6 separate regions of the Homo sapiens genome follow, and all the other regions are reported to be linked to region 5. The links are microRNA targets in miRTarBase. Many come from high-throughput screens and were not tested one by one. Region 5 holds a microRNA gene; each other region holds the end of a gene's coding sequence.

The links. Region 5 holds the annotated microRNA hsa-miR-15a-5p (UAGCAGCACAUAAUGGUUUGUG, at 1,661-1,682, shown strand). A microRNA usually pairs through its seed, bases 2 to 8, with sites in the 3' UTR of a target mRNA and lowers its output. Matches are read on the target gene's strand: a 7mer-m8 pairs with bases 2 to 8, a 7mer-A1 pairs with bases 2 to 7 and ends in A, and an 8mer does both.
Region 1: miRTarBase lists EZH1 as a target of hsa-miR-15a-5p. Seed matches in the 3' UTR shown: 7mer-m8 at 2,844-2,850 and 8mer at 2,077-2,084.
Region 2: the mRNA of NT5DC1 is a reported target of hsa-miR-15a-5p. The part of its 3' UTR that is shown has no 7-base or 8-base seed match.
Region 3: the mRNA of PDIA6 is a reported target of hsa-miR-15a-5p. Seed matches in the 3' UTR shown: 7mer-m8 at 985-991.
Region 4: the mRNA of B4GALT1 is a reported target of hsa-miR-15a-5p. Seed matches in the 3' UTR shown: 8mer at 639-646.
Region 6: the mRNA of PLEKHB2 is a reported target of hsa-miR-15a-5p. Seed matches in the 3' UTR shown: 7mer-m8 at 931-937, 7mer-m8 at 934-940, 7mer-m8 at 937-943 and 7mer-m8 at 2,107-2,113.

The regions. Positions count from the first base shown.
Region 1 is chr17:42,699,617-42,702,694 of GRCh38, forward strand. It overlaps EZH1 (enhancer of zeste 1 polycomb repressive complex 2 subunit), which reads right to left. Exons shown (of 21, transcript NM_001991.5): 21 at 659-2,976. The coding sequence ends at 2,916. CNTNAP1 (contactin associated protein 1) reads left to right here. Exons shown (of 24, transcript NM_003632.3): 24 at 1-377. Among named protein-coding and RNA genes, the nearest start is that of MIR6780A, 7.0 kb to the right of the region's middle. RefSeq lists a cis regulatory region at 1-268 and an enhancer at 1-268.
Region 2 is chr6:116,243,563-116,246,697 of GRCh38, forward strand. NT5DC1 (5'-nucleotidase domain containing 1) reads left to right here. Exons shown (of 12, transcript NM_152729.3): 12 at 347-3,135. The coding sequence ends at 462. Among named protein-coding and RNA genes, the nearest start is that of TSPYL4, 8.9 kb to the right of the region's middle.
Region 3 is chr2:10,781,838-10,784,961 of GRCh38, reverse strand. It overlaps PDIA6 (protein disulfide isomerase family A member 6), which reads left to right. Exons shown (of 13, transcript NM_005742.4): 12 at 1-28; 13 at 636-1,571. The coding sequence ends at 704. It overlaps ATP6V1C2 (ATPase H+ transporting V1 subunit C2), which reads right to left. Exons shown (of 14, transcript NM_001039362.2): 13 at 2,587-2,719; 14 at 1-1,788. The coding sequence ends at 1,699. Among named protein-coding and RNA genes, the nearest start is that of PDIA6, 29 kb to the left of the region's middle.
Region 4 is chr9:33,110,700-33,113,699 of GRCh38, reverse strand. It overlaps B4GALT1 (beta-1,4-galactosyltransferase 1), which reads left to right. Exons shown (of 6, transcript NM_001497.4): 6 at 114-3,000. The coding sequence ends at 246. Among named protein-coding and RNA genes, the nearest start is that of MIR12117, 3.5 kb to the right of the region's middle. RefSeq lists an enhancer at 1,510-2,109.
Region 5 is chr13:50,047,714-50,050,848 of GRCh38, reverse strand. It overlaps MIR15A (microRNA 15a), which reads left to right and starts at 1,648; the gene lies at 1,648-1,730. DLEU2 (deleted in lymphocytic leukemia 2) reads left to right here. Exons shown (of 14, transcript NR_152566.1): 6 at 1,187-1,265. MIR16-1 (microRNA 16-1) reads left to right here and starts at 1,788; the gene lies at 1,788-1,876.
Region 6 is chr2:131,146,461-131,149,595 of GRCh38, forward strand. It overlaps PLEKHB2 (pleckstrin homology domain containing B2), which reads left to right. Exons shown (of 8, transcript NM_001100623.2): 8 at 177-3,135. The coding sequence ends at 313. Among named protein-coding and RNA genes, the nearest start is that of PLEKHB2, 43 kb to the left of the region's middle.

The sequences.
Region 1 (3,078 bases), not on the chromosome of region 5:
TGTGCCTGCCCAAAGGCTTCGCCCCCTCCAGTGCATGAGGAACCCTCTTTCCTCCGCTCAGAGATGCTGCTTCATTTACCCAGGAGGTCATATTCTTTATATATATTTTTTGTTGCAAAGTGTCTCTCTAGAGAAACTCTATATATTATTCGAATTTTTAAATTATTTGTTTATATATAAAAGAAAAGCTCAATTGGCTGTGCTGTCCTGTGCTGTGCTGTGCCCACAGTCTGTAGTTTGCCTTTCCTGTGTTGGAAGTGTCGTGAGTCCTGCTGGTCACCCACCAGCCTGGTCCGGCCTCCACTCTGAAGCAGGGTTGAGCCTGCTGTGCTCTCAGACGCGGAGCCGTTCCAATAAAGCAGAGTGGCAGAGCCCCAGTCTGTGTGTGGTAGCTGGCGTCGTGGTTAGGGGATAAGTGGGATGATTTTAAGGGAACTAATCTGAGGGCTCAGGAATTTCTAGAAGGAGCTCTCAGAATCCTTGCATCACCTTCCAGGGACTTGACTGACTGGCTCTTGCCAGAACCCCCATCTCCCCCTTTCCCAGATCTCAGTGGGTAAGTGGGGATCAGAATGCTGATGCTTCGGCCCAACCTGCTCCTGGACCCCATCCCTGGATCCTTCCAGCCCCAAAGCACACAGTACACAACTTGCCAAAATGGATTCTAACACTTTATTAAGAGGTCACAAGCCACAGGACTTTAAAGTGCATGAAATTTATTGGCAATGAAGCCGCATGTATACCAGGCTCCCCTAGTCCCCACCACCTTGCCCCATCCATCATGACGTGGTGGGGAGGGGTTGAGACCCATCTTTAAAAGTGGGGGACAGCAGGGACAAAGGATGGGAAACTGGAGGAACAGGAGTATTCATGAACTGAAGCTGGGACAGGAGACTGACCACAGTGATTCTGCTCACTGAAGGAAGGGTGGGGTCAGTCTAGTCTCTCAAAGGCTGGTGAAAAGTTTTTTTTCACCTATTCCTCACAGCGAGCCCCTGGCATTTCAAATAGACCTAACTCCTCCTCTTCATCTTTCTCTGGTTTTCTCCTCTATGAGTAATTTGGAACCCACAGTCCAGCTTGAGGGTATCCCTGATATGCACAATGAATACAAACCACGGCGGATGCAGATTTCAGGATCATGCTGGGGCCTGGCCCATTTGGGTGGGAGGAGCTTTCTGTCAGGAGTTGCTGGGTGCGGGGTACGTGTGTGCCCTCCAGTGTGGTGAGTGAGAGCATGTGAGTGTGTGTGCATGTCCCATACCAAACCGTAAGAGGCAGCTGGGTCAGGAGGAACCCCACTTCTTCCTTCATGGGACAACAAGTGGAGTGGGAAGAAGCGGGGCTCTGAGTCCCAGAAAGAAGGGAGAAGCCTGCTCCCTACTGTAACACTCCCAGGCCAATCTATACCCGCCCACACCCTTTCTACTCAACATACTGCTCCTTGTTCCCAGCCAGCCCGGCACACCCACCATGGACACAGGGCAGCTCTTGCTGGCCCCATTCACATGAAATTCTTCTGTGTGAAACTCACTCGTCTGCCTCTCCCAGGAGATGAGACAGGACTGGAGGAGAATCTCCCACCCTCTCTTCTTCCCCCTCCCTCAGGAGTGGGATTTAGGCAGGGACCCTAGAGACCTTAGGCCAAACTCTACCCCAATCTATAGACCTTTTAAAAGAAATGGTTAAAGTGCTTTGCTCTGCATGAATGCCAGAGAGGGTGGCACCACAGCCTGGGACAGGTGGTCTACCTGCTTCTTCTCCCACTTCAGATACCCTCTGCCAGTGTGCCCTGCACACGGGGTGCCAGCCTAAACGCGTGCAATTTAGCCCCTCACCAACCTTGGAACATATTCTAACTCACCCTTTCCAAACAGCAGGCACTACAGACAGGAAAGCAGATTACACCAATCTTTCTCCTCTCTAGTCCAAGCCTGTGCCCACCTACCCTGAAGCGATAAGCAACACTGGCCATTGGGCCTTGCCTCTATGGGGAATGGAAGGCCTGAAAACACCCACAAATCCAGCGAGCCAGGATGCTCACACCTGCCAGGCATACCCCTAATGCTTCTTCAATAGCAGCATAATGCTTGCCTGCAGCTGCTAAGCCAGAACTTTGGAGGAGCTGGAGCACTGGTGTCTGTTCCCAGGAATCTGAAAACACTTCTCCATCTATCTCCAGAGTACACAGAGAAGGCTTTCTCAAAGCCTCCTGGGCCCAAGCTTAGCAGTTTAACTACTATCATCTGGCTGGTTCTCCCTCTCTGGCTAAGGAAGGATGGCGTAGCTTTCCTTCCCCCAGCCTTGAATGCCTGTACTTAGAACCCACACTCTTTCAGTTTGAGCCCTGCCACGAGGGAGGAGGTAGTAAGGTGACCTGTCTACCTCTGAGTTCAGTCTGTGCTGCCTGCCAGGCTCGCCTCTAACCCAGACCACTTGTAGGCTCCAGGGACCACACTTCACTTAGCCTGTCCTCTCCAGGTCTTAGGACCACAGAGGTTTGCCTGCATCCCAATAACATAAGGACTCTTGATGTGGAAAGCTACAATTACAGGCTAGCGCTTGTTGGGAACTGCCTAAGTTGATTCCTGAGGCCACAGCCTGGGGAGCCGACACGAAATCACGCATAAGTCATCCACCCCAGCCTGTGCTCGCTTCTTCTGAGGCCAGAGAAACAGTCTCCCATTTCTGTAACTCTCTGTCCTGGGAGACCAAGCCCTAGCTGCCTCTGTCTCCCCTCTCATTGAGACAGTTTTGTGCCCTCTGGACATGGCAGAGGCCTCACTACAGAGGGAGTGGGTTGGGGGGTTTCTCAGTGTGGGAGACACAGTGCAGGAGACTCGAGCAGCAGTGGTGTGAGCACGAAAGCCAAGACAGTGCCGCTACCATAAGTGCTGCCGTGGGGCCTGGGAGGGCTAAAGGACGTCGGTCTCCCTCTCGATCCCCACGTACTTGAGAGCATCAGCTTGGCTGTACCTGTCCCAGAGCAGGGAAGAGGAACCAGGTTACTCTCATGACTTTTGTGATTGAAAAGGCGGAGTCCCCTCCCGTTTCACTTCCCCTCCCACTCCTTAAGGG
Region 2 (3,135 bases), not on the chromosome of region 5:
CATCCCTTTTGCCTCTTAAAACCTTTTTATATTCAAGTAATGTTTCTATACTTGTGGATATTCTGTTAGACATGGTTATCTCATTCACATTTAAATGCCTAGAAGCCTTTTTTATAGCTGTTGTAAAAGTTTGTCTTTATTAGCCATATGTATTACAATGGTGGTTGGTTTATACACATTTTTAACCTTATAATAATAGCTACACACAGACCTACTGAAGGAGCAAAAGAAATATTAAAATTTTACGTCTAAAAAATAAGTTTTATTAGTGAATATCAAGTTTTGATTTGTTTATGAAAGGCATTCAGAGACCTGTGCAATAATTAAATTTTTTTTTCCTCCCCAGAATTACCTCTGGACTACAAATTTACAAGATTCTCTTCAAGCAATTCAAAAACAGCTGGCTACTATCCAAATCCTCCACTGGTCTTATCAAGTGATGAGACACTGATATCCAAATAAGTTGTCTTTACTGAAAAATGAAGTGAAGACCCATATATGCAGTTAAAAAAAAGTTAATTTTCAAAAAATACTGTAAAAGACTTTAAGGAACAAGTTTTATTGACCAATAAGTTGATATTTGTCCATAGGTCTCCTTTCTATAAATCATCTTGATGTTTAACAACTCTTATTATATTAAAATCTCAGTATCCTAAAACTTAGAACCTTATTGATATTTTCTATACAGTAGTTTTGTGATTAGAATTCACCTGGGGACACACACTCACACGCACAGTCACTCTTACACATATGCCTAGTCCAGTGGTTCTCAAAGTGTGATCCATAGACTAATAGCATAGCATTACCTGAGAACTTGATAATGCATATTTGCAGGCCCCACGCAAAACCTGCTGAATCAGAAGCTCTGAGAGTAAGGCCTACCAATCTGGTTTAACAAGCCCGTCAGGTGATTCTGATTTACAGTACAGTTTGAGACCCACTGGCTAGAACATATCCTCCAGAGACTTGGCTTAATTGGTCTGGGTAAATATGGCTGAGCGTTGTTATCTTTTGTTATCTTTTATATGCCCTAGGAAAGTACAACCAGAATTGAAAACCAACTGATCTATACCAGTTCTTTCAATTAATAGTCAAGAACATTGAGTCCAGTGAGATTAAGTGATTTTTGCAGGCTATGAGGTTTTATGCTATTCCTGTGTTCTCCAAAACAAGAAAATAAAAAGACATGACTTATTCTCTGTTCATACAGCAAGTATGGAAAAAAGATGATCTAGAAGTCAACTATCTCAACCTCCATTGTTACCCACTAGGTTTTTTTCTAATAATGTTAAAGGCTATTTAATTTATTTAATCAACTTTAAGCATTACATTCTCAATTGGGGACAAAAATTGGTTCTTGGGGTGAAAAAATATTAGATATGGCTTGTGGACTTCCAATATCATCCTATCCAACAAAATCTTATTCCTTAGTATTAATTTATCTCATTGGGAAGAAATTTGTAGTTAAAACTATTTAATGTAATTTGAATTTAATTTCTGTAATTGGGAAGGAGGGTAATAATGAACAAAAAGTTTGAGAAAAAAATGCTTTAATGGGTTTTACAGGCATGCTACAATCCAGGACTGTGGTGTTCTATGTGCCGTGTATGGTCATATTAGTAGCTATTTGTTGCAAGATACTTGAAGCCAAATGTTTGCAGTATAGGTTCCTGGCTACTGTTTATGCTGTGATTTCACTCTGTCTATCATGGGCAGTATTAGAAAACACACTGGTTTTCACTATCTGGTTTACAAACACTATCATTATTTTACCTGGATTGAAGTGCAGAATTTGGCATATCGATGCATGCAATGGAAAGAAAAAAAATTTGTTAAAATTTGTAAATGTTCAGCTAAATCTCAGATATACTGTGGGATGAGTATCTCAGGGTAAGTAACAAAAAAACAAACAAAAAAAATCACTGAAATTTTTCCCTCACAGTCAGTAGCTTTGTTTGATATTTAACAATAAGTATATGGTGATATACTTGAAATTTATGTCCAGAATGTCACTGGAATATTACAATGAGCATAAATAATCAAGCTTAGGACTAAATGAAAGATACTATCTCATGTATGCTTTAAATAGAGAATTTATTTCTTTTAAAAATAAAGCTATCTTTCCTTATCCATGTTTACTCTGTAAATGGCAAATAATACATCTTTAAATGCTTATGAACTACTGTTAATATGAAAAATGAGAAGTCCAAAATAAGAAATAACTGCACTTTTTGGGCCACTTGAGTAGTGGCGGGGGTTCAGGAGGCAGAATTCAGTTGTCAGAAGTTCTAGTATTCCCTTTATCATTCCACCTAAAGACCCTGAACAAGTTACCACCAAATTTGGCTTCAGTTTTTTCCATCTTATGAAAGGAAAAGTTTAGTTTATTTCTAAATTTCCTTCCTTTCTAGCAGTCAGTATTTCTTCTAATGAATGTTTTTTTTCTGTAATTAGAAAGACTATAATTAGGCTTTTTAAATTTGTATTTTCATTCTTTGTAAAGAGTGCCAATGGATATGAAGATTAAAAATAATCCAAATCCATAAAAATTAAAAAGAAAATATTAAAGAAGTTATATGAAGCAAAAAAATTGTATAAATGGACAGAAGACATGTAATATTCGCATACAGGCAAACATTCATAATCTAAAGGACACCTAAAAATAGATGTAAGCGAGCGGAGGTTTTCTTTGCTGGCCACTGTTTATCGCATCAGCAGAGGAAAGATCTGAATGACTCAGTGACCAAATGTTTTGTCAGAATCTGGTATTTGGAATACTGAGGTAGTAAAAACTTTATCTGAACCATGAATTACAATCTAAAATCAACTTCTGAGTTTGTTAAACTCTAAACTGAAATCAAGTATTATTTCCCCACCAATATTCATATCCAAAAATAACTTTAAATACACACACACACACACACACACACACTTTTAGTGAACTGGTTTGAATGAAAATAAATTTATATAATTATTTTATATAACAAATCAGCATAAAATGGAAAATCAAACTGCCTCTCTAGATATAATAACCTTCACTGACTGTTGGAAATACATGGATAGCTTTTTAAAATCTTCAGTGTTGGAGTAACAGTCCCTTACATCTTTTCAGCCTCTTGAGTACAAGAAGACTAT
Region 3 (3,124 bases), not on the chromosome of region 5:
AGAGCCTTGGGACGGCAGGGATGGCGAGGTGAGTGCCCGGGAGGGAAGCTGTGCGGGCAGCAGTCCTGGTTTACTCTCTTGAGCCTGTGCATCTCTGCACCTGGAGTCAAGTCCTTCCCATCAGACCTCAGCCCTGGTGCACCCGTGGGCCTTTTAAGAGGTTCTTCTCTGAAGACCCTTCATCTTCCTTATCACAAGTTTAAGTGCTGCATGGCATTTGATACTCTTGACAGCCAAGATACATTTCAGTAGTAAGGTTGCTTTCCTGATTATTACCTTAAAGTGAACATTTAACCTGGAATTCATTTACTTTATCTTAGAAAAATAGAAAATGATAGCTTTGAAATTAGCACTTATTTCTGTACTGTTGTGTCCCACCCTCCTCAAAAGGACACGTTCAAGTGGCTTCCAGTGTTAAAATGGTGAGTGATGTGATGTTGAAATGTTTCACCTGAGTTCTGAGCTTTTCCATCCGTATAATCATAGGTACGAAGGTCAGGGTAGGAGTCAGACTGAGGAGAACCTGGATTGTAGCAGGAGTAGCTCCAGAGAGTCGCTCTTCCATAAAATGAGATGTTGACCTTCCAGGGTGTCCCCTTCTGCAGATCTAACAGTGGCTTTCTGTCGTCTCCCAGCTTCCCGTGGAGGATGACATTGACCTCAGTGATGTGGAGCTTGATGACTTAGGGAAAGATGAGTTGTGAGAGCCACAACAGAGGCTTCAGACCATTTTCTTTTCTTGGGAGCCAGTGGATTTTTCCAGCAGTGAAGGGACATTCTCTACACTCAGATGACTCTACCAGTGGCCTTTTAACCAAGAAGTAGTACTTGATTGGTCATTTGAAAACACTGCAACAGTGAACTTTTGCATCTCAAGAAAACATTGAAAAATTCTATGAATTGTTGTAGCCGGTGAATTGAGTCGTATTCTGTCACATAATATTTTGAAGAAAACTTGGCTGTCGAAACATTTTTCTCTCTGACTGCTGCTTGAATGTTCTTGGAGGCTGTTTCTTATGTATGGGTTTTTTTTAATGTGATCCCTTCATTTGAATATTAATGGCTTTTTCCATTAAAGAATAAAATATTTTGGACAATGCCGATAAATGTATGAAGTTAGTATCCACATCATAAATTCAGAGTGATGTTTAGCAGTAAATCAATATTTTGAAGTGATACACAGATGTCTTTCCTCCCCACAAACTTTTTTAAACAAAAAACAAGACCTCTTTTCTTTAGATGGTGCCACCTATGCCCACCACAACAGAGATTTTACATGGAAACCGGGCTCAGTGAGAACTGATTTCCTGCCCAATATTTGTCTTTGGGCTGTCTCTAGTGACTAATTATTAAGGAATCTAGCTGGTTATACAGTTCAAGGCTTTCTATGTTGTTAATGAACCTCAAAATAGCCGTTAAGACATGAAATACAGCAGCAGGTTACCAATGCGAACAGGTAGTTCGCATTTATGTAAAACATTCAGAAAATGAAGTTTTGAATTTGTTGGAACATTCAAAGGACTTGAGAGCATTTTATTGTAACTTAAAAAAATAAATACAACTGTCACTAACTTTTGTGAGCAATTTCTCTGAAAAAGATCTTAGTTCTGTAAGACATTTGAACCATTCTCTGGCTAAAGGAAAGAGGTGTCTGTAATAATCTGCACGAACATGAGACAGAGGTGCCAGCTGGCCTTTCTAGTCAAGAAGACTAAGGTCAATATGGAAGTAGACATAAGGAAAATAGTCTTGGTTATTGAGTTGCAGTCCCGGGATCTCCACAGATGCCTACAAAAGAAGACATGGTAATGCTCTAAGTGCATAAACTAGTTTCCTGTCTTATCCTTTTAGTTTTGAGGAAGCTCGCCAGGCACTGAGCGTACGTTCTGCTCTGCGTAGCTGTGGTCCACCCCTCCAACCCTCTCCTTGCTGTGCTTTAATGTGTATGACATGTAGATTTTCATAACAGGCTGACAGATAGTTTTGCTTTGTTTTGTTTTTGAGACAGTTTCTGTCACCCAGGCTGGACTCAGCTCACTGCCTGCCTCAGACTCCCAAGTAGCTGGGATTACAGGCATGCACCACCACTCCTGGCAAATTTTTTTTTTTTTTTTTTTTTTTTTTTTTTTTTTGAGACAGAGTCTTGTTCTGTCGCCAGGCTGGAGTGTAGTGGCGTGATCTCAGCTCACTGCAACCTCCGCCTCCCAGGTTCAAGCGATTCTCCTGCCTCAACCTCCCAAGTAGCTGAGACTACAGGCACACACCACCATACCCAGCTAATTTTTGTATTTTTAGTAGAGACAGGGTTTCACCATGTTGGCCAGGTTGGTCTCCATCTCTTGACTTCGTGATCCACCCGCCTTGGCCTCCTGAAGTGCTGGGATTACAGGCGTGAGCCACTATGCCCAGCCCAATTTTTTTTTTAGTAGAGACAGGGTCTTACCATGTTGGCTAGGCTGGTCTCAAACCCTTGACCTCAAGTGATCCACCTACCTCCCAAAGTGTTGGGATTACAGGCAGATACCAGTTTTTTGAAAGTAAGATGCTGAGCTTACTGTAGAAATACTGCTGTTTCTGGATACCTACATCCAGTATACTTGTAGCGGCTACTTCATCCAGATGTCGGAAGACAGAGTTTAGAACCTCTCTTAAACGCTTGGTGGATGACTTCTTATGCGGCTGCAGGAGCACTGCCTGGAAGTTCACTGGTAGTCCATACCTTTTCAGATAGACAAAATGTGTCAGTTCACTGCTCCAAATGCAAACACGGATAGAAGGAACCTGACCAGAAACAGTACATTCCGAGGGTGAAAAGCTTCAACCAACACAGCTTCATAAAGTCAAACTCGAGCAAAATGCCTAGGGTCAGCGGTGATCTCTGGATAGAAAAAGCTCTAGAATTTGCTAACCCCCTTCTGATAGCTAGTTTTCAACTATAGAGCAAAAGAGGTCATCCCTCTGGCCATGAATGGCCATTCCACGGTGCATGCTCAAGTTGAATGCAGGTAGTTGGACTGAACATTCGGACTCCAAGGCGTTTGTCTAAAACCCAGCTCGGCCGTTTTTCTCCACTAAAGGAGAGGCAAAAATCTGGTTTATCAAGATTGTTACTATTTTCGCTGAG
Region 4 (3,000 bases), not on the chromosome of region 5:
GAGGGAAATTGAGGTGGTCAGGTTACAGTGGAGAGGGAGGAGGAAGTACGTGTGATGATTTCTTCTTAAGATTTTTGTTTTAAGACAATCTCCTTGTGCTCTTTTCCTTGTAGGTTTGACCGAATTGCACACACAAAGGAGACAATGCTCTCTGATGGTTTGAACTCACTCACCTACCAGGTGCTGGATGTACAGAGATACCCATTGTATACCCAAATCACAGTGGACATCGGGACACCGAGCTAGCGTTTTGGTACACGGATAAGAGACCTGAAATTAGCCAGGGACCTCTGCTGTGTGTCTCTGCCAATCTGCTGGGCTGGTCCCTCTCATTTTTACCAGTCTGAGTGACAGGTCCCCTTCGCTCATCATTCAGATGGCTTTCCAGATGACCAGGACGAGTGGGATATTTTGCCCCCAACTTGGCTCGGCATGTGAATTCTTAGCTCTGCAAGGTGTTTATGCCTTTGCGGGTTTCTTGATGTGTTCGCAGTGTCACCCCAGAGTCAGAACTGTACACATCCCAAAATTTGGTGGCCGTGGAACACATTCCCGGTGATAGAATTGCTAAATTGTCGTGAAATAGGTTAGAATTTTTCTTTAAATTATGGTTTTCTTATTCGTGAAAATTCGGAGAGTGCTGCTAAAATTGGATTGGTGTGATCTTTTTGGTAGTTGTAATTTAACAGAAAAACACAAAATTTCAACCATTCTTAATGTTACGTCCTCCCCCCACCCCCTTCTTTCAGTGGTATGCAACCACTGCAATCACTGTGCATATGTCTTTTCTTAGCAAAAGGATTTTAAAACTTGAGCCCTGGACCTTTTGTCCTATGTGTGTGGATTCCAGGGCAACTCTAGCATCAGAGCAAAAGCCTTGGGTTTCTCGCATTCAGTGGCCTATCTCCAGATTGTCTGATTTCTGAATGTAAAGTTGTTGTGTTTTTTTTTAAATAGTAGTTTGTAGTATTTTAAAGAAAGAACAGATCGAGTTCTAATTATGATCTAGCTTGATTTTGTGTTGATCCAAATTTGCATAGCTGTTTAATGTTAAGTCATGACAATTTATTTTTCTTGGCATGCTATGTAAACTTGAATTTCCTATGTATTTTTATTGTGGTGTTTTAAATATGGGGAGGGGTATTGAGCATTTTTTAGGGAGAAAAATAAATATATGCTGTAGTGGCCACAAATAGGCCTATGATTTAGCTGGCAGGCCAGGTTTTCTCAAGAGCAAAATCACCCTCTGGCCCCTTGGCAGGTAAGGCCTCCCGGTCAGCATTATCCTGCCAGACCTCGGGGAGGATACCTGGGAGACAGAAGCCTCTGCACCTACTGTGCAGAACTCTCCACTTCCCCAACCCTCCCCAGGTGGGCAGGGCGGAGGGAGCCTCAGCCTCCTTAGACTGACCCCTCAGGCCCCTAGGCTGGGGGGTTGTAAATAACAGCAGTCAGGTTGTTTACCAGCCCTTTGCACCTCCCCAGGCAGAGGGAGCCTCTGTTCTGGTGGGGGCCACCTCCCTCAGAGGCTCTGCTAGCCACACTCCGTGGCCCACCCTTTGTTACCAGTTCTTCCTCCTTCCTCTTTTCCCCTGCCTTTCTCATTCCTTCCTTCGTCTCCCTTTTTGTTCCTTTGCCTCTTGCCTGTCCCCTAAAACTTGACTGTGGCACTCAGGGTCAAACAGACTATCCATTCCCCAGCATGAATGTGCCTTTTAATTAGTGATCTAGAAAGAAGTTCAGCCGAACCCACACCCCAACTCCCTCCCAAGAACTTCGGTGCCTAAAGCCTCCTGTTCCACCTCAGGTTTTCACAGGTGCTCCCACCCCAGTTGAGGCTCCCACCCACAGGGCTGTCTGTCACAAACCCACCTCTGTTGGGAGCTATTGAGCCACCTGGGATGAGATGACACAAGGCACTCCTACCACTGAGCGCCTTTGCCAGGTCCAGCCTGGGCTCAGGTTCCAAGACTCAGCTGCCTAATCCCAGGGTTGAGCCTTGTGCTCGTGGCGGACCCCAAACCACTGCCCTCCTGGGTACCAGCCCTCAGTGTGGAGGCTGAGCTGGTGCCTGGCCCCAGTCTTATCTGTGCCTTTACTGCTTTGCGCATCTCAGATGCTAACTTGGTTCTTTTTCCAGAAGCCTTTGTATTGGTTAAAAATTATTTTCCATTGCAGAAGCAGCTGGACTATGCAAAAAGTATTTCTCTGTCAGTTCCCCACTCTATACCAAGGATATTATTAAAACTAGAAATGACTGCATTGAGAGGGAGTTGTGGGAAATAAGAAGAATGAAAGCCTCTCTTTCTGTCCGCAGATCCTGACTTTTCCAAAGTGCCTTAAAAGAAATCAGACAAATGCCCTGAGTGGTAACTTCTGTGTTATTTTACTCTTAAAACCAAACTCTACCTTTTCTTGTTGTTTTTTTTTTTTTTTTTTTTTTTTTTTTGGTTACCTTCTCATTCATGTCAAGTATGTGGTTCATTCTTAGAACCAAGGGAAATACTGCTCCCCCCATTTGCTGACGTAGTGCTCTCATGGGCTCACCTGGGCCCAAGGCACAGCCAGGGCACAGTTAGGCCTGGATGTTTGCCTGGTCCGTGAGATGCCGCGGGTCCTGTTTCCTTACTGGGGATTTCAGGGCTGGGGGTTCAGGGAGCATTTCCTTTTCCTGGGAGTTATGACCGCGAAGTTGTCATGTGCCGTGCCCTTTTCTGTTTCTGTGTATCCTATTGCTGGTGACTCTGTGTGAACTGGCCTTTGGGAAAGATCAGAGAGGGCAGAGGTGGCACAGGACAGTAAAGGAGATGCTGTGCTGGCCTTCAGCCTGGACAGGGTCTCTGCTGACTGCCAGGGGCGGGGGCTCTGCATAGCCAGGATGACGGCTTTCATGTCCCAGAGACCTGTTGTGCTGTGTATTTTGATTTCCTGTGTATGCAAATGTGTGTATTTACCATTGTGTAGGGGGCTGTGTCTGATCTTGGTGTTCAAAACAGAACT
Region 5 (3,135 bases):
GCAAGACCTTGTCTCTACAATAAAATAAAAATGTAAAGAGCTGTGCATGGTGGTGTGTGCACTTGTAGTCCCAGCTACTTGGGAGGCTAAGGTGGACTGATCACTTAAGCCCAGGAGGTCAAGGCTGCAGTGAGCTACGATCATGGCACTGTACCCCATCCTGGGCAACAGAGTACCCTGAGATGAGAAGTAAAACAAATCCTGTAGCTCTTGATCTTCCTATTCCCTACCTATTTCCGGTCCATTTACCAGGTAAGGAAGTATACTCCTAAAGTTTCCACTTACTCAGATGTAGAAATGAATTTCTTTTTCTCTAAAAGATACGGAAACTACTCTCTTAAAAAAAGAAAAAATAAAAATTTAAAAAACGTTGTGCAGAAACTTGAGACAATAAGGAGCAGAGTTATATGTGAAATCCAGGTTGCTTAGATAGGAGATTAGCTACATATATTTTTTATTAATGGGAAAAATACTCAGAAAAATTTCATATGGAATGTGACCCTGTGCTTTGTATAAGTAATTAGATATTAGAATGGAAGAGCAAATTTTAGTGCTTTGGTTGTGTACATCACCTTACTATTCTGTAATAGATGTAACTTTAGCATAGTCATTTTAATGATGAGAACATGGGGCAAAAAAGATTGTCCAGGCTTGAATGGTGGCACCACTAGAGTGGTGGCAATTTTCTGATATCTTTTAGAGAAAAGGAATTTCATTTCTACATCTGAGAAAGTGGAAACTAGGAGTTTCTTCCTTACCTGGTAAATGGGCCAGAAACAGGGAATAGGAAGATTAAGAGCTATGGGATTTGTTTTATTTCTCATCTCAGGGTACCAAATTAACTCATCATCCCAAGGATTCATATTTTAGAATTACTTAAGGATTCATATTTTAGAATTACTGTATCAAATGATATCCAACTCTAAGAGAACTTCTAGTATGAAGATCAATGTTGAAAGTAAAATATTTAGATTATTAATAACAAATTATTTAAGGGAGAATTAGTTTGTTTAGAGCTTTTTTTCTTAACTATATTTGGAATTAAAATGTCTTAATTAGATATTTAATAAAATTAACATTTAGAATTAAAGTATTTTTCTTTAAAAGTATATTTGCATTTTGCTAGCTTAAGTTTATTGAAACTGAGCTCTTGTATGTCATTTCATGTTTTTCCCTTGATGTGAAGTCTTACCTATTTGATGAAGATGTCTTTTGAAAGGTGTACTGCAAGGAACAAAATGTTTGTAAATTCTCCTTTTACCAAGGTAAAGATCAAATTTTATAAATTTACTTGTTTGTTTATACAAGGAAAAATAACTTCATATATTGAATATATTCAAAAGTTTAAGCATTTAGTTGTATTGCCCTGTTAAGTTGGCATAGCAAATAAATGCTTTTCTTTTCCTCATTTTATTCTTTGTGTTTCCTAACCTATAGCACTGTGCTGGGCACAGAATGGACTTCAGTTAAGTTTTTGATGTAGAAATGTTTTATTATTCTACTTAAAATCTCCTTAAAAATAATTATGCATATTACATCAATGTTATAATGTTTAAACATAGATTTTTTTACATGCATTCTTTTTTTCCTGAAAGAAAATATTTTTTATATTCTTTAGGCGCGAATGTGTGTTTAAAAAAAATAAAACCTTGGAGTAAAGTAGCAGCACATAATGGTTTGTGGATTTTGAAAAGGTGCAGGCCATATTGTGCTGCCTCAAAAATACAAGGATCTGATCTTCTGAAGAAAATATATTTCTTTTTATTCATAGCTCTTATGATAGCAATGTCAGCAGTGCCTTAGCAGCACGTAAATATTGGCGTTAAGATTCTAAAATTATCTCCAGTATTAACTGTGCTGCTGAAGTAAGGTTGACCATACTCTACAGTTGTGTTTTAATGTATATTAATGTTACTAATGTGTTTTCAGTTTTATTGATAGTCTTTTCAGTATTATTGATAATCTTGTTATTTTTAGTATGATTCTGTAAAAATGAATTAATACTAATTTTTCAGATGTATCATCTCTTAAAATACTGTAATTGCAATTTAATAATTGTATTGAATGCCATCAAGTTTTTTTAAAAAGCTTATGCAGCATTAGAGGAATTTATTTTAATGCACATTTATATTCAACATAGACATTAATTCAGATTTTTACTTGGGATAAAACAAATTCTAGTTTTCCCTTTGTTTTGAAATTACTTTTAAAATATGTCTTTACAGATAAATATAAAATATATTAAGCATTTTGAACAGAGCTTAGAAGACAATATTTAGTACTGTTTCTGAATATTTCTTTATATCTGAAGGGGAAAAGCCATCAAAATATGTGAATTAAATACCTAAAATTCTGGTTGTCAAAACGTCACACTTAACCATAACTTTAAAGGTAGAAAAACCCTTACAAGTGACCAACCCACTCATTGGATAGCTAAGGAAACACAAAACTCAAATAATTTGCTACACATCACAGATTGGGGTCTTAGTCTTATGTCTTCTAACTTTATAATGGTATACTATTTTTTTCATGTTTTTATTAAAATGTTTTCTTAAATCCTTAGCCAAAGATTTTTGTTTGATAAGTCAAAAATAAGGTCTTGTTTACTTTGTTTACTTTTTTGTATTCAAGATTTAACTCAGAGTAAGACCAAATTATCATTGTAGTTTTATTGATATAAAATGTCAACATAATTTAATTTTTTTTTTTACTTTTTTGTATTTTTAAAATTTTTTATTAAAAATAAAAGTAGACAGCCAGGTGCGGTGGCTCACGCACTTTGGGAAGCCGAGGCAGGCGGATCACCAGGTCAGGAGATCAAGACCATCCTGGCTAACACGGTGAAACCCCATCTCTATTAAAAATACAAAAAAAATAGCCAGGCGTGGTGGCGGGCGCCTGTAGTCCCAGCTACTCGGGAGGCTGAGGCAGGAGAATGGCATGAACCTGGGAGGCGGAGCTTCCAGTGAGCTGAGATCGCACCACTGCACTCCAGCCTGGGTGACAGAGGGAGACTCTGTCTCAACAAAAAAAAAAAAAGAAAAGAAAAGTAGAGCTGGGCACAGTGGCTCAAGCCTGTAATCCCAGCACTTTGGGAGGCCGAGGAGGGTGGATGACGTGAGGTCAGGAGTTCGA
Region 6 (3,135 bases), not on the chromosome of region 5:
CCAGTGTGCGGTTTCAGGGATGTCGGCCACATGATGTGCCTGTTGTGGAGGAGGGCTGGGTCGCCAGTGTGACAGGAGACAGCAGATCCCTTTTGTGAAAGGAGAACTGGTACTTTGCGTGATGTTAAACTTCACAAACCGCTGCTCAGAAATCTGCTATTTTCCTTCTCTTTTAGGACTTTATGGACAGCAGCCTGCTAACCAAGTCATCATTCGAGAGCGCTATCGAGACAACGACAGCGACCTGGCACTGGGCATGCTGGCAGGAGCAGCCACGGGCATGGCCTTAGGGTCTCTATTTTGGGTCTTCTAGGGGCCTCAAGGTCTTGATGTGCATAGCTTCTGATAACCCTGTGTGCAATAATATGATTTGCAGGGCATTTCTGTTTGTGACAAAAGTTTTTAATAATAGTTTTAATCATTCCTTTGAAAGTAGTGATGTCATAATTGTACTAATCCACATAAGTACCACAGAGAAGGGTTTGAACTGTGCTATTTTGTTCAAATGTTGACTCTCCGGGGGCACTGGCTCATTCCAAGACTGTTCTTGTGCAACTCTCAGAATACCTTATTTGAGCATACCTGTTTTGAAAGGCATTTTCTTTTTAGAGTTAGGTGTAGTGCTTAAGGGTTAATTTATTTTCATGTTATGCCAGTAATATAGTGTTGTATGCCTATTGAGTGATTGTGGCAAGAAAAGCTACAGCTTCTTTGCGTTTAACTTTTTCAAACCACAGACCAGAACTGGTTGCATGTTACTTTAGGAGTTGTGGGTTGGTAAGCTCCCAGGTACTTCCCGAGGCTATGGTGTGAGAGCCCCCGTCCTGCCCTCTGGGGCTCCACAGGCCCCTGGCAAGGCCGATGGCTCAGGATGATGGGGCACAGCCCGCCTTTGAACAATCATGCTTCAGAAATCTGCCTGACCCTAGCTGCTGCTGCTGCTCACTTTATTCTTGTATGGCTTTGGTAGGCATACTTGGAGAACATATCCCACATTAGGAATTGATTTAAGCCTGAGAGTTTGAGGGCTTTAATCCTTTAAAACTTGGAGAAGCTGGCTGGGCGCGGTGGCTCACGCCTGTAATCCCAGCACTTTGAGAGACCGAGGCGGGCGGATCACGAGGTCAGGAGATCGAGACCATCCTGGCTAACACGGTGAAACCCCATCTCTACTAAAAATACAAAAAATTAGCTGGGCGTGGTGGCAGGCGCCTGTGGTCCCAGCTACTCGGGAGGCTGAGGCAGGAGAATAGTGTGAACCCAGGAGGCGGAGCTTGCAGTGAGCCAAGATAGTGCCACTGCACTTCAGCCTGGGTGACAGAGTGAGACTCTGTCTCAAAAAAAAAAAAAAAATCCTGGAGAAGCCAGAACAATATACAAACAAGTATGTGGAGGCAGATTTGCTTTATTCCAAGAGGCTGTTTGAGTGTGTGTCTGCCTAAGCCTCCTTATAGCCTATTTTTCTACTTGCTGAGAGAGTAATATTAAAGGAACAGTGAGGGAGTGGAAGGAGAGCCTTAGTTAGAGCGTTCCCATTTCTGGCCTTTGGGGGTTTGCACTGTGCGGGAGATGCTCTCTCATCACTCTGAAGGCCCATCCTGTGCAGAAGTGGGACTCTGTGGCTGTTCACTGAGCACCAGGGCAGACTGTAGCTGAGCAGACTTGGGTTATGGATGGGATATGGGGCCCAGGGACCCTCAGGACACAGGGACCGGCTCAAGGTACCACTCAGCCTGGCCAGGACCCCCAGCTTTGCTTTTGTTCTTGATCTCTTTGTGATAGAGAAGCTTAGAACATTGAATTTGGAACCCCAAAATGTGTGAGTCTTTGGAAAACCCATTCCAGCCTTTCTTCAAATGCTCTTATTTTCAGTATATGAAGTGTGTATTTGAAATATTCATATTTCTGTTATTTCTTGTTTTCAAGCTCTGAATTATTGCAGTTTTCTGTCCTGCATGCTTTCAACAGTGTGCTTTTACAGTGGCAGTTTAGCACAGCGAATGTCCCTGCCCCACACTCCATATGGTCCTGTTTTCCTGAAAATACACTCCAGGTAGCACAGACTTGTTATTTTGCCTGGCTGGTTACACACATGCTGTCTTGCTTTGCTGCTCAGCCACCTCCCTCTGAGGCCAACTTAGGCCAACCTACATAGGACTCCATCTTTAGCGAGACACCAGAGACACCTAGTGATGACCACGGGTCTGCTTTTCTCTCTGATCCTAGGGGACTTGTTGACATGGGAGTGTCTGTTTCCACATGGAAGGATGTCTGTTTATCTCTCATCTCTGAATAGATGTATGACAACTCTAGTGTCCATGGTTTAAAATGTTGCTTTGAGGATTTTCCATCCTGTATAAGAAGAATGGCTTTCTTCAGATTATAATCGTTATTAAAGCTGTATGTACACTTTACTTAAAAACTATTAACAGTTTTTCATGTTGCACTGGTGGTAATTTTGAACTTGGAATTACTGGGTGGGAATTCCAGGAACCACAGAGTATTGATTTTTGCTGCCAAAATGCTCTTGAAGCAGATGTCCCTGTGCTCCCCTGGCTGCTTCTGGCTGAAGGGGGGAGGTGTAGACTGAAGCTTGGGCACTCATGTGTGTCCCCTCCCCAGTCCCCATCCTAGTGGGGCCAGTCTCATTAGGCAGCCATAGATAAGCCTGGAACTTGGCTGTCATTAGTGACTTGATCCTGGTATGAAATGCATACTGGGTATAAGGTTGCTCAGGTATTTTATTTCCTTGGCCACAACTCCCATAGATGCCAATGTTTTGATAGCCTCAGTTTCTCAACGATGTCTTTTGTTTACAGTGCTACACTTAGTGTGAGTCAAGAAGTGCTTGAGTTACAAGAAACTTCTTATTCAGGTTTGAGTAAGCATTTTACTTCCATGTGTACTTTTAAATAATCCATACCTTGAAGAAGTTGGCCAATGATATTATATACATGCTGATCTGATTGTTCTTTTCATTCCTTGAGTCAACTTCAGGGTCTTGGATACTAAAGAGAAGGAGAACTGTGGTTAATGTTTTGGATCATCATTTGTGAACAAGGCCAGACTTTGCCCATTTTAGGCTATCCAGGACTTAAGGTAGCCATCTGGATCATAAGAAGGTCCTGCAGTTGA